Homo sapiens: one gene and its partners. The protein of the gene in region 4 purifies or fractionates together with the protein of the main gene of each other region. This does not show direct contact. Each region holds a gene or a part of one and is shown on either strand. Other genes may lie near its edges.

Region 1 (3,396 bases), on a different chromosome or scaffold from region 4:
GAAGTGAGTAGTCAGTCTTGGTTCAAACTACCACAGATTCTCATCTTCCTTACTGAATTTTTGTAAATGTTCTTGAATAGATGTTTCTTCATTGCCATTTGTCCTCAGGACCATTTCCAGAAGTTTTAAATGGTTGTTTTTAATATTTTTCACCAGTTTCACAGTATGAAAATTAAACATTCAATTTTTTTACTAAAATGTATTATTTGAAAATTCTATACTAAAAATACAATGGAATTAACCCCATCAATTTCATAATGACTATAAAGTAATCAAGTCACAGAGCCAAAGTATAGACAGTTTAGAAGACTGAACTTTCCTTAGCACTAATATTTAACAATAGGAGCCAATTTCACTTAAAATAATCTGAATGTTATATATGCAACAAATTTTAGTCTCTGTAAAGAATCTTATACCAAAAACCCTATAAAAATGTTAAGTAAATTGAGCCTATTTTTACCATAGGCCTGGCCAAATGTACACATGAAAACTGATGAACGTAATGTGCAAAAAGGCTTGGAGAGAGTTTTATTTCAGTTACTTCAAAATACAAGTAGGCTATTATTTTCCTTTGGAAGAAGAAACCAGAAAAAAAACTTCCTGATTGTAACATTGTGACAAATTTCAGATTATATAACACATAACACAGGATAAATGGCTGTAGCATTAATTTTTTTCTCCAGTTACATTCCTTTATACTAAAAGACTAGTATTAAATCTTAGAAGAAAATTTCAATTGTTCTTACGTGTTACATATTAAACACAAAAGCAATTTATTATTATTTGGTACAACATGAACCTCAGTATTTGCTCAAATGTAGAAAAGGATTCCTTAATATGCTGAGAAATATCCTTAGATAAATCCAACTGTGAAAATATAGAAAAACTCCTTACTGTAATTACTGGGAACCACAAAGTTAATTTTTACAGGGTAGAAAAACTCCACAAAAATGGAGATTCATACTTAAAAACCTTCTTTTACTGATAGAACATTCTTTCTGGTATTATAAAATGAACAAAAGTGTACAGATATGGGCTTGGGGCTAGATAATATCCATAGAACTCGCCATTTTAAGCAATAAAAATTGGCATGTGGGTGCATGCCTGTAATCCCTGCTACTTAGGAGGCCAAGGCAGGAAGACTGCTTGAACCCAGGAGTTCAAGACTAGCCTGGGCAATGTAGTGAGGCCACTGTCGCTCAAGGGAAAAAAAGACATGTTTTTAAACACACTTCTAATAAAAAGAATTTTTAAAACCAACTTTTTTGCTTCTAGATAGTCTCAATGCCTTGGATTTAAAACATGACTCCTTCTTGATACAATGAATTATAAAAGCAAACTAGTTCCACATATTAATTATACGTTCAAGTCTAGTTCCTAAAAAGTCATTTCTCTTTAACCTTTCTTACCTATCAATCAATCATTTTCATATAATCTAATGTCTAAGGACTCCAAATATTGGTACGGGGTGAGTATCCCTAATCTAAAAGTCAGAAACAAGAAATGTTCCAAAATTCAAAACATTTGAGCGCAGATATGACACATAAGGGAAATGCTCATTGAAGCATTTCCAATTTCTAATGAAAGATTTTTGGATTAGGGATGCTAAATTGGTAAATATAATGCAAATATTCCAAAATAATAATTTAAAAACCCCACAAAAAACCAAAATCCAAAACACTTCAGGTCCCAACCATTTTGAATAAGGGATACTCAACCTGTAGTACCATGGGAGCCAATCTTCCCCACAGCTAATTCTGTAATTACCATTTTGTTTCTTCTGTAACAACAAACAGTTTAAATAATTTCCAATTATAAAGATAGATAGGTTAACATCATCATCGTTTTTTAACAAGATAACTTTTATGAAGCTTCCAATTTTAAAAAAGAAAAACACTTATCTATTCAGTAGGGAAGAAACAATCTTATTTATTAATGGCCTGCATATTTAGAAAGGGTTTAAAAACACATACATTTCCTGGGACACAAACTTACTTACCAAATGTATGTCCTTACAAAATAACTTCACAGATCAATAGTCTTGAACTTACACAAAGACATATATATGACATACATTAGGTTAATATACATTTCAAATGTTTTTGCAGCAACTTTCTACCAGAAAGTACACTAATGTGAGAATGTATGTTCTCTTTAACCCCTTAAAAATAGTAATAAAAAATTACAAAATAATGTAAATGTAAAATTAAGGCTGAGACTACATATTCTAGTATTAATAAAGTCAAACAAACAATAGTTATAAAACTTGGTGCTGCTGAATATTTTATATATATATATTTATATATATATATATATATACACACACACACACACACAGGATAAGTCTTTTGAAATTTGAAATGCTACCACTGTCACAAGTTCACTCATTGATTTAATGTTGTTCTGGGTATCTTAACATTTCAATTCCCAAATACCTGTGCTTTTAAAATTTTTATCCTGAATTCTGCATTGAGTTTCCTCACATATTTACAATTAAACATCTAGCCTCTAGAACCTCCCTTACACAAAAGACAAAACATCTTTGTTAAATAAATTCACGCAAAAGTAATAAAAAGGTTTTCAAGAAATAGTTCTGACATGTTCATTATATTTATACTGAAAAATAGTACATGTACTTTTCTTCAGGATTAATAAATGCCATGTGCCAGTTTTACAGTCACTGCCACATTAGCACATTTTCCTCTTACACATTTGCAAGGTAGTGACAACCAAAGGGCATAATGTCTGGAATAATTCCAGTAAATCCATAATGTCCAGTAAGATTCATAAAATTGAATGGTTGTTTCCAGTCCCATCTGAATCGAAATGGAAATTCATGCCCAGGTACTTGTATTGTCCCCAGAAATACTCAGTCTGGTAAGTCACCCTCTTGGTCTTCTGAAACAGAGATGCAGAAAGCAGGGCATTCTTACTGAGACCAATGGCCTCTTCTCTCTGTCACCTCTCATACATCTGTTTTGGTTATAATCCTGGTCAAAGGGGAAAGAAAAAAAAGTTTTATGTACCAAAGGTTTCCTTTCCCTGAATTCCCTCATCACACCTGAATGCTTAAATATCCAATGAAACCATATTCTTTTAAATATAATTCTTGGTATAAACAGATTTAATTAAATCCTTATATATAATCATTTCCTTCACATGTATGCAAAACAAGCCCCCAAATAAAAGTAGTTAACACACACACAGTATATAACATATATAAGTAATTTGTATCACAGTGCTTTGAAATGGTATTATCTCAGACCTAAATTCTGCAGATTTTTCCTTTCACCCCCTTTTCCTTAAATGAACTTATTATTTTAAGAACAGGAATTATAATGCTTATTACAGAAAAGTAACAAAGACAAGCAAAATAAAACATTTAATATTCATAAT
Region 2 (3,500 bases), on a different chromosome or scaffold from region 4:
TAAATTACCAGTTGGGTCTGGGCATCCTTCAGAAGGCCTCTGAATTCCCGCATGGATGCTAGGTCCTGTTCCAGCTGGCTGATGCGCTGGCTGGCGTGTGCACAGAAAGCCTCCAACACTATCTCTGCCTATTGAGGGAAGTGGTTGCAAGGCCACAGTGGGCAACAGGGGAGCCAGCACAAAAAGATGTAACCATGACACCTCAATAGATCAGTTCTTTACTGCCCAGGGCAGGCAGTTCTTAGGCCACCCATCTGTGTCTAAAGTGCATTTGTGTTCCTGCAGGAACCTTGAGGTGGAAACCTCCCACATCCAAGAACAAATGCCTGTCACCTTACCGCATCCTTGCCTCTGAGAGCCATTTCCTCTCTGTGCCTTGCCTCCTCCCTTTCTGCTTTGAGGCTCTGGAGCTTTGCCCTCAATTTCTTCAGCAAATCAAAACAGCAACAGACCAATGTTTCTGCACGCCGAGACTATATGGTAAGAATCAGTTAATGTGTCTGGTTCCTCTTTATGGCTTTTAGTCCCACCACAGGCCTCCACCTCCATCTTCAGGCTGCTTACCTCCTGACTCACAGTAGTCTTATCTTCTTCTAAATGCAACAGGGATAGGTGAAGCAAGGATATCAGCTCTTTAGAGATAAGCACCCATGATTGCTGTAGAGAAAAAAATGGGTAGGTGAGATCAAATAAAGTCACTAAGCAGGAAACAGGGGCACTGGGGAGGAAAACCGCTAACCCCAATTCCAAGCTCCGCATAAGGAGATGTACTTTACAAATGTTTGGAAACCTCCCTTCACCACCACGACTTAGTATCACCATCTACTAACCACCCAGGATTCTCCATTCTTCATCTTCACAGGAGACCCAGTGGTGGTGTAAGGTCAATCATCACTTACCATGACATTTCTGGCCTGCTGTAGGGCCTGTCCCATCTCATGGCTCTCCTTAAGATGCTGAAGTTTATTAGTTATCTAGCCAGAAAAACAGAGTTGTTCCTTGTTTTGTTTGTTTGTTTGTTTTTGAGACAGAGTCTTGCTCTATCATCCAGACTGGAGTGCAGTGGCACAATCTCAGCTCACTGCAACCTCCACCTCCCAGGTTCAAGCAATTCTCATGCCTCAGCCTCCCAAGTAGCTGGGATTACAGGCATGCACTACCACACCCAGCTAATTTGTATATTTTTAGTAGAGTCGGGGTTTCACCATGTTGGCCAGGCTGGTCTTGAACTCCTGGCCTCAAGTGATCCACCGACTCGGCCTCCCAAAGTGCTGGGATTACAGGGGTGAGCCACCATGACCAGCCAAGTTGTTCCTTTTGAGTAGGCAACATGTACCACCAGCACCTCATTCTTCCTCCCACCCAGTGAGTTATAGGAGCCTTTCCTATTTTATTTATTTTTTATTTTCTGTAGAGATGAGGTCTTGCTATGTTGCCCTGGCTGGTCTCAAACTCCTGGCCTCAAACAGTCCTCCTGCCTCGGACTTCCAAAGTGCTCCTGCCACACCCAGCCACCTTTCCTATTAAAAGCAGAAGCAAAGTACTCAATTCAATGAAGCCAAGTCAGAAAGAAAAATCCACAGGTAGGTAAAAAATTTCTTTGTTTAGCCAGGCACAGTGACTCATGCCTGTAATCCCAGCACCTTCAGAGGCTGAGGCAGGAGGATCACTTGGGTCCGGGAGTTCAAGACCAGCCTGGGCAACACAGTGAAACCCCATCTCTAAAAAAAAAAAAAAAAGGCTGGGCGCGGTGGCGCACACCTGTAATCCCAGCACTTTGGGAGGTCAAGGCGGGCGGATCACCTGAGGTCGGGAGTTCGAGACCAGCCTGACCAACATGGAGAAACCCCATGTCTACTAAAACTACAAAATTAGCCAGGCGTGGTGGCACGTGCCTGTAATCCCAGCTACTCCGGAGGCTGAGGCAGGAGAATCACTTGAAACCGGGAGGCAAGGTTGCAGTGAGCCGAGATTACGCCACTGCACCCCAGCCTGGGCAACAAGAGTAAAACTCCGTCTCAAAAAAAAAAAATTTTTTTTCATTAGCCAGGCATGGTGGCACATGCCTATATTCCCAGCTACTCAGCTGGATTGAGGTGGGAGGATCCCTTGAGCCCAGGAGGTAGAGGCTGCAGTGAGCCATGTTCGTGCCACTGCACTCCAGTGTGGGTAACAGAGTGAGACCTCGTCTCAAAAAAAAAAAAAAAAAAAAAAAGGATGAACCAATTTATATCCTGCAGATAAATAGAGTATGCTTACCAGCATTACCTATTTTATTCTTTGCTATTGAGTCACAAGAAAATGGCATCTCACTGTTCAATTTGCATTTTTTATTGCCAATAATGCTAACCTTCTTAGGTATTTATTCATCATTTTTACTTTCTTAATTGTCTGCTCATTATCCTGGGTCAGATAGATAAAACTCATAGTATGCATAGAGTAAGTAGGTATGATCTCAAAGGCAGTAGAACCCCAGAAGACAAGTTCTAAGAGAAAAGTGGGAGTCTTCATTACTGAGGCAAGGCAGCCATCATCTGGGGGAAAAGTTACTACTGGAGCAGCACTGCTGATTTCTTGGAGTTCATGGCTCCCTTCCCCAGCAAAGCAGTTATCATTCACTGCTGCATCGTGAAATAAGGCACAGAGTAGCACATGAGCTTGGATAGGGCTCACATCGTGCTCAGCTGGACAGTCAGGCAGGTGATGAGATTAATGTGAAGGAGGCAGCCAGGCAGCAAGGACATGGCATGCTGATGGAGAATGGCTAAAGGTATGTCATTTCCCCTCTTTGGTTCTGCTTCAGTGGCCTACAAAGGGACCTGGCAACCTTCAGGGGAAGAGGATGCATGGCAGATTCAGGGATGGGAAACAAGGTCAAGAACAAGAGGAAAGGACACAAAGATAAGAAAACAGGAGGGAAATTGAACAGCTGGAGGAACATGGAGCTTATGGTTTCCAGGATTTTTGGCAAATGGTAAGGTCATTACTTTGAGGATATTTTCAACTCAAAGGAGGTCTCTGCACATTTGGGGACCATCTCTTCTTAGCAGCAGCCACCTATTATCTCAACAGCCACAATGGTGAGGTGCTATCAATTCCTTCACCTGCCACCATTCCCTTCCTTCTTAGGCCTGTGTTGTAATACAATCCTCTAGAACATTGTTGTTGTTGTTGTTTGAGACAGCCTCACTCTGTTGCCCAGGCTAGAGTACACTGGGTGATCTCGGCTCACTGCAACCTCTACCTCCTAGGTTCAAGCAATTCTCATGCCTCAGCCACCCAAGTAGCTGGGATTACAGGAGTGCACTACCATACCCAGCTAACTTTTGTATTTTTAATAGAGATGGGGTTTCACTATGTTAGCCAGGCTGGTCTCAAACTCCTGGCCTCAAGTGATCTGCCGGCCTCAGCCTCCCAAAGTGCTGGGATTATAAGCGTGAGCCACCACATTGGGCCAACAGTGGTCTTTTAGCTACTTTCCTCTAATATTTCCTGCAAAA
Region 3 (2,466 bases), on a different chromosome or scaffold from region 4:
ATAGAATAGCTGATTCTTACAACAACTGTATGATCAGGGATGAGTTAGAGTATTTCTTTTGTCTTTGCTCAAAGCCATACATATATAAATATATATAAAGATTATTAATAAATTCAACAAAAAATAAACTACAATCATGAATATTTTATTTTATCAATATATGCTAATCAAATGTTTTATTTTATTAATGAGTACAGCTTTGCCTCTATTTTTACATCATAAAATTTCCAAGAGCTTATACTTGATAATCACATAAAATCAATTATATTCTATAATTCTGGAATGAGAGGACTTTAAATAGAACATGGATTTTTCAACCACTTCTTTGTTTACCTTTTTCGTATAGTAAAATATGAGCTTATTTTCTTTTTTGCTCTGTGCCTTTTTAGAATGTGGTTGTTCTCCAACTTCAAAACACAACCATTTTGTGTAATTATTGGATATACAGATGAGAAATAATTTTCCTGTAATAATGGTAAATAATTGTCCTGTAATATATTTATACAAACCTATTTTGTTATAATAGTTCTATGACATACCTATTTTGTTATAATAGTTTTATAACATACCTATTTTGTTATAATAGGGCCTTGGGCTCTATTATAACAAAACAGGTTTATATAAATACATTCATATTTATAGCCTTAAACAAAATAGGTTTGTATAGTAGGCCCAAGGCCCTATTATAACAAAATAGGTTTGTATAAATATATTCATATTTATAGCCTTGGGCCCTGCAAAGTTATTTGGAGAGTGATAGAACCTCCCCACACAAGTGGGTTTTAAATGATACCTAAAAGCCTGAGATAGAGTTTATCATAATGAGAATAAGTAGTGAAGCATTCCTGAAAACAAGGAGGATAAATAGTAGCAATGGCAATATATTCTATTCACCAAAAAAGTAGCTTGTCTCCAGGTCTGGATGACCTCTTCATAAGTGAACAATTCCCTGATGAATGCTGTTCCACTTTAAAGAGATGGTTATTTTGCAATTTATAAACTTAACTGAGCATACTATTTTCAGGACACTACAAAGTACATAGTCAAGTTATTACCGTCATTCCTATAGGACAGAGAATGATTTAAACAATATGACATGTTTAAAATTTTAGATGATTTATTTCAAATCCTGAATTATGTCTACTTCAAATTATGAGCAATCTCTATTATCTTTCAGGACTATTTAAAAAATCTCCATACCTCCTCTTTCAGCTTAGGTTTTTATATTTGTTAATTTTACTATGTTACTTTGCTTCTATGGCCCTCACTTGCACTGTTTATAATGTTAACCTGTTTGAATGAGATATCTCTCCATTATATCTTTATCTTTTTAGAACATGTGCCATAAAACCCATGTGGTTATTTTGTTCATATGCACTACAACTAGCAAACTTTTATTTTATGTTCACCTACTTTAAAAAGTACTCATACTGTACCATGGGAAAGAAACATGGGCCTTATAGAATGGAATGCTGAGCTATTTTGAGTCCTGAAAACAATGGCCAAAAATTTAAGGAACTGTGGTTGCTGCATGCACCAAATTGTAGCACATACAAATAAATAAAATACAGTTCTATAACTGTATTCAATATGGTTATTTTCAAGGAAAAATAGGATAGAAATTTTCTTTGAAAGATTTGCTATTGTACTTAGGGAAGTACACCTGCTATTACCCCTCAAAAGCAATGACTTTCTTAAGCAATTTCAATTTTTTTCCTTTTTAACAACCCTGCACTTGCACAACCCTGCATCTCTTGTCTCACCCTAATGCTGACCCTGCTTCCAATTCAGGCTTTGACAGGGACAAATGGAGATTTTAAGGTTTTTTAATGAGAGAAGCCTTGCTGACACTCCCCGCATCCCACCTTGAAAATTATTTAAAGATGATCTTAAAAGAACCTACAGATAATGCTCTGAATTTGTTTACAAGGTCCTTGATGTGGAGAGAATGAGTAATACATTAAATGCTGGGGAAATAATTATCATTTAGTGAAAAATTAAGCATGCTTTTCTAAAATGTGGATGTTTAACAGAGCACAGCTGATTGGGAACACTGGCAGTTCAATGCAGCTGGAGTGTCTCACAGGGTGAAGAGGAACCCAGATCAAGTGGGAAATAGGGATTTCAAAAACCTTCTGAAAGGCTTTTAACATCAGGGCAAAGGTTTTACAGTGTTGTACTTTATATTCTTAATTTAAGCTTATCAACGGGGAGGATTCACATTGAAATGTCTGTTTTGCTAATGTAACAAGGAATAAAATAATTTATGACACAGCAAAAACTGGGGGCTATTTACAACCCCACCCTGCCTTGTGAGGATGCTGGGTCCTAAGGAAGGTCCTAGGTTTGCTAAATAGAGTAATGGGAATAGGAAACTGAAAGTTTACTTGCTTTGCGTAAGATAATATATTGCGGCAGGGAAGGGGTACAAGAAGATAAGAGCTAGAACCTGTGAGAAGGGAAAGA
Region 4 (3,500 bases):
AGTAACAGGGAGGGCCGTGCTGGGCCATAGCTGGCTGCTGATTTCCCCTACTTGTGCACCCCCAGGTCATGAAAACCTACCACATGTACCATGCAGAGAGCATCAGTGCGGAAAGCAAGCTGAAGGAGGCTGAGAAGCAGGAGGAGAAGCAGTTCAATAAGTCAGGAGACCTCAGCATGAACCTGCTCCGGCACGAGGACCGGCCCCAGCGCCGCAGCTCTGTGAAGAAGATTGAGAAGATGAAGGAGAAGGTGAGTGGGGGCCCTGGGCTGGGAGCGATTGGGGACAGGGCACAAAGGGGAGGGCCATGGTCTTGGCGGACAGCCTTAGCCTTCCCCCTTATTCCCCTGCATCCCAGTGGGGTGGTGGTGGGTAGGGGGGATGGGACAATGTAGCCAGCATCTCCTCTTTTGGAGATCGGTGTCCTAGTGGAAGCGGAGCCAGGCATGCCCGTGCTAACACTGGTTAGGCCTGGCTTAGTGCTAAGGTCAGCAGGCAGACGAGGTGCTCAACTCACAAGAAAGCTGAACTGTGACGAGATTCACACCCAGCAAGCACCTTCTCAGATGAGCTGGAATCACAAGGCATTAGCGGGAGCAGGGGCTTGTTCCAGAGGCCAATTTGATGGCCAAGGGTAGGGGCGGGGGGTGAGGTGGGAACTGATTGCTGAATGTGTCTCAACAAGAGGGACCAGCACCTGGAAAGCTGGTGAAGGGCTCATTCCAAAATTGCCATTGCCAATTCAAAGATGAGAGAGTTAGAATCCCTGTGTATTGATTCTGGAAAAGTCCTTTAGTAGGGTGTGGTGGGAGGAATTCTAGCTTTGGAGTCAAATGAGCTGGGTTTTGAAAATGCCACGTTTACAACACCTCTCTGAGCTGCAGTTTTCAAATCTGATAGGAGTGGCAAATTCGTCTCATCTCTCATGTCAACTCTGATCAATTGCCCAGAGCACTGGGCTGAGAATTGTGAAACTCGAAACAGATTTAGTTAAAAACAGTGCTGTAGGGCTGGCCACAGTGGCTCATGCCTGTAATATCAGCACTTTGGGAGGCCAAGGCGGGAGGATCGTTTGAGCCCAGGAGTTCGAGACCAGCCTGGGTAAAATGGCAAAATTCCATCTCTATTTATGAAAAAAAAAAGGCAAAGAATTTGAATAGATGTTGCTCTTAAAAAAACATGTATGAGTGGCCAATAAGTACATGAAAAGATTGTCTGGGCCAGGCATGGTGGTTCACACCTGTAATCCTAACACTTTGGGAGGCCAAGGTGGTCAGATAGTTTGAGCCCAGGAGTTCGAGACCAGGTTGGGCAACATGGCAGAACCCTATCTCTACAAAAAATAGAAAAATTAGGCAGGTGTGGTGGCATGTGCCTGTAGTCCCAGCCACTTGGGAGGCTGAGGTAGGAGGATTACCTGAGGGAGGTCAAGGCTGCAGTGAGCCATGATCACATCACTGCACTCCAGCCTGGGCAACAGAGTAAGACCCTGTCTCAAAAAAAAAAAAAAAAAAAAAAAAAAGATTGTCTCTATTATTAGTGATTAAAGAAATGCAAATCAAACTCAGTGAACTATCACTTCATACCCACAGGGATAGCTAGAATTAAAAAGGCAGACTATAGGAAGTATTGGTGAGAATGTGGATAAATTGGAATCTTCACACACTACTAAAGGGAATGTACAGTGATTCTATCACTTTGGAAAGCAGTCTAAATGTTAAACATAGACTAAGTTACCATGTGACTCAACAATTTTATTCCTAGGTATCCACCCAAGAAAAATAAAAACATATGTCCATTCAAAGACTTGTACATGAATAGCAGCATTATTCTTAATAGCCAAAAGATGGAAATGACTCAGATGTTCATCTGCTGATGGATGGTTGAATAAAATGTGGTATATCCATGTGATGGAATATTATTCAGCCATGAAAAGGAATGAAGTACTGACAAATGCTGCAACATGGATGAACCTTGAAAACAGTATGCTAAATGAAAGAAGTCAGTCACGGAAGACCACATATTGTGCAACTACATTTATGAAATGTCCAGCATAGACAAATCTATGGAAATAGAAAATAGATGATTGGTTTCCAGGGGCTAAAGAAGAGGAAAATGGGGAGTGACTGTGAATGGGTGCAGCATTTCTTTCTGGGGTGATGAAAATATTCTAAAGTTAGATAATGATGATGGTTGTGTGACTCTGTGAATACAGTAAAAATAAATAAAAATAAAATAAAATAACCAAGCAGGGAATGATAGGACTACAACATAGGGAGAAGGAGAGAGGTAGAGTGAGTGCTGACTGGAAGTCCAGAGGCCGATTTTTAGTTCAGAGTTGTATTTTTGGTTCGATTAGCTACTTGGCTCTTGGGCAAGCCACTTCTCTCCAGTTCTCATTTCCTCATCTATAAAATAGATGAGTTTAATGAAAATACCTTTAACATCCTTTCTAGGTATAACATTTTATGAGTCTATGAAGGGCTAAAAAATGGTCTCAGGGTCATGGTCATAGTTGTCCACTGGAAATAGGCCAAGAATATCAAAACTCTCTGTGGGGGGTCAGGTGCATGGCTGGCGTAGGATGTAACTGCCAGGACCCTGGGGAAAAGTTAGAGATCTCTGAAGAGAATTAAAAGGATGAGAACTCACTGTGGAATAGGAAGGTGTAAGAATGTCTAGGCAAAGGAGAAAAACCATTTATTTACAGAGACCTGACTTTTTACACAGCAATGGGACTCATCAGTCTGAAAGGAGCAGGGGACAGCTCTCCAGCCCACTTCCTCTTTCCTGCTCCATTCCCAGGCTGGCTTAGCCAGGAGCAGCTCCCTGGGGGGCAATTGGGTCCCTGCTGAGATGGGCGGCTCTGGCTGCCCCACCCCACCTCTCCCATCCAGTCATCCTCCCTCCCTCCTGTCCTCCAGTCACTGAAAATGACTGAAAATGACCTTGTGCAGGGACAGTTCTGGGCGCTCCAGACCTAGCAATGAACAAAGCAGATCAAGTCCCTAACCCCACTTATTTTCTAATGGGAGATCACTGACAATCAACAAGTAAATAAAAGGGTAGAAAAAAATACAGTTTCAGGTGGTGGAAGTGCTTATTAAGAAAAGAGCCGGGCAGGGGTGGGCAGAGGGAGTGGGAGAGGTAGATGAGCTTGTCATCGAAAGCCAATCTGGCCTTGAGACCTTGGGCCAAGGCTGAGGGAACCATGAGTTTGAGGGCCTTGAGACAGGAATGAATTTTGCCTCTTAAAGGATGGACCAAGGAGGCTGAGCAAATGAGGGGGAGCCTGGGGGAAGGTGGAGCTTGAGAAGTGGATGGGACAAGGCCATGGAGGGCTTCTCAGGTGCGAGCAGCAGTTTGAGACATCACTGGAGGGTGCTGGGTAGGGGTCTTATTGATTGATTGATTGAGACGGAGTCTCCCTCTGTCACCTAGACCTGGAGTGCAGTGGTGCAATCTCTGCTTACTGCAACCTCTGCCTCCTGGGTTCAAAT

What was found. The genes of interacting proteins can lie anywhere in the genome.
Region 1: the proteins of SRGAP3 (region 4) and SMCHD1 purify together in Homo sapiens (affinity purification with mass spectrometry; one large-scale study listed by BioGRID and IntAct). This does not show direct contact.
Region 2: the proteins of SRGAP3 (region 4) and SPAG5 purify together in Homo sapiens (affinity purification with mass spectrometry; 3 studies listed by BioGRID and IntAct, with this or other methods). This does not show direct contact.
Region 3: the proteins of SRGAP3 (region 4) and HCN1 purify together in Homo sapiens (co-immunoprecipitation; one large-scale study listed by IntAct). This does not show direct contact.

The regions. Positions count from the first base shown.
Region 1 is NC_000018.10:2,802,122-2,805,517, reverse strand, and holds the end of SMCHD1 (structural maintenance of chromosomes flexible hinge domain-containing protein 1), read right to left. Parts: intron 2,991-3,396; coding exon 2,966-2,990; coding exon of another isoform or gene 2,883-2,965; 3' UTR 501-2,882; downstream 1-500. UniProt on the Homo sapiens protein: Non-canonical member of the structural maintenance of chromosomes (SMC) protein family that plays a key role in epigenetic silencing by regulating chromatin architecture.
Region 2 is NC_000017.11:28,585,526-28,589,025, forward strand, and holds part of SPAG5 (sperm-associated antigen 5), read right to left. Parts: intron 975-3,500; coding exon 900-974; intron 658-899; coding exon 565-657; intron 474-564; coding exon 339-473; intron 129-338; coding exon 9-128; intron 1-8. UniProt on the Homo sapiens protein: Essential component of the mitotic spindle required for normal chromosome segregation and progression into anaphase. Required for chromosome alignment, normal timing of sister chromatid segregation, and maintenance of spindle pole architecture.
Region 3 is NC_000005.10:45,256,915-45,259,380, reverse strand, and holds part of HCN1 (potassium/sodium hyperpolarization-activated cyclic nucleotide-gated channel 1), read left to right. Parts: 3' UTR 1-2,466. UniProt on the Homo sapiens protein: Hyperpolarization-activated ion channel that are permeable to sodium and potassium ions. Displays lower selectivity for K(+) over Na(+) ions.
Region 4 is NC_000003.12:9,061,147-9,064,646, reverse strand, and holds part of SRGAP3 (SLIT-ROBO Rho GTPase-activating protein 3), read left to right. Parts: intron 1-65; coding exon 66-251; intron 252-3,500. UniProt on the Homo sapiens protein: GTPase-activating protein for RAC1 and perhaps Cdc42, but not for RhoA small GTPase. May attenuate RAC1 signaling in neurons.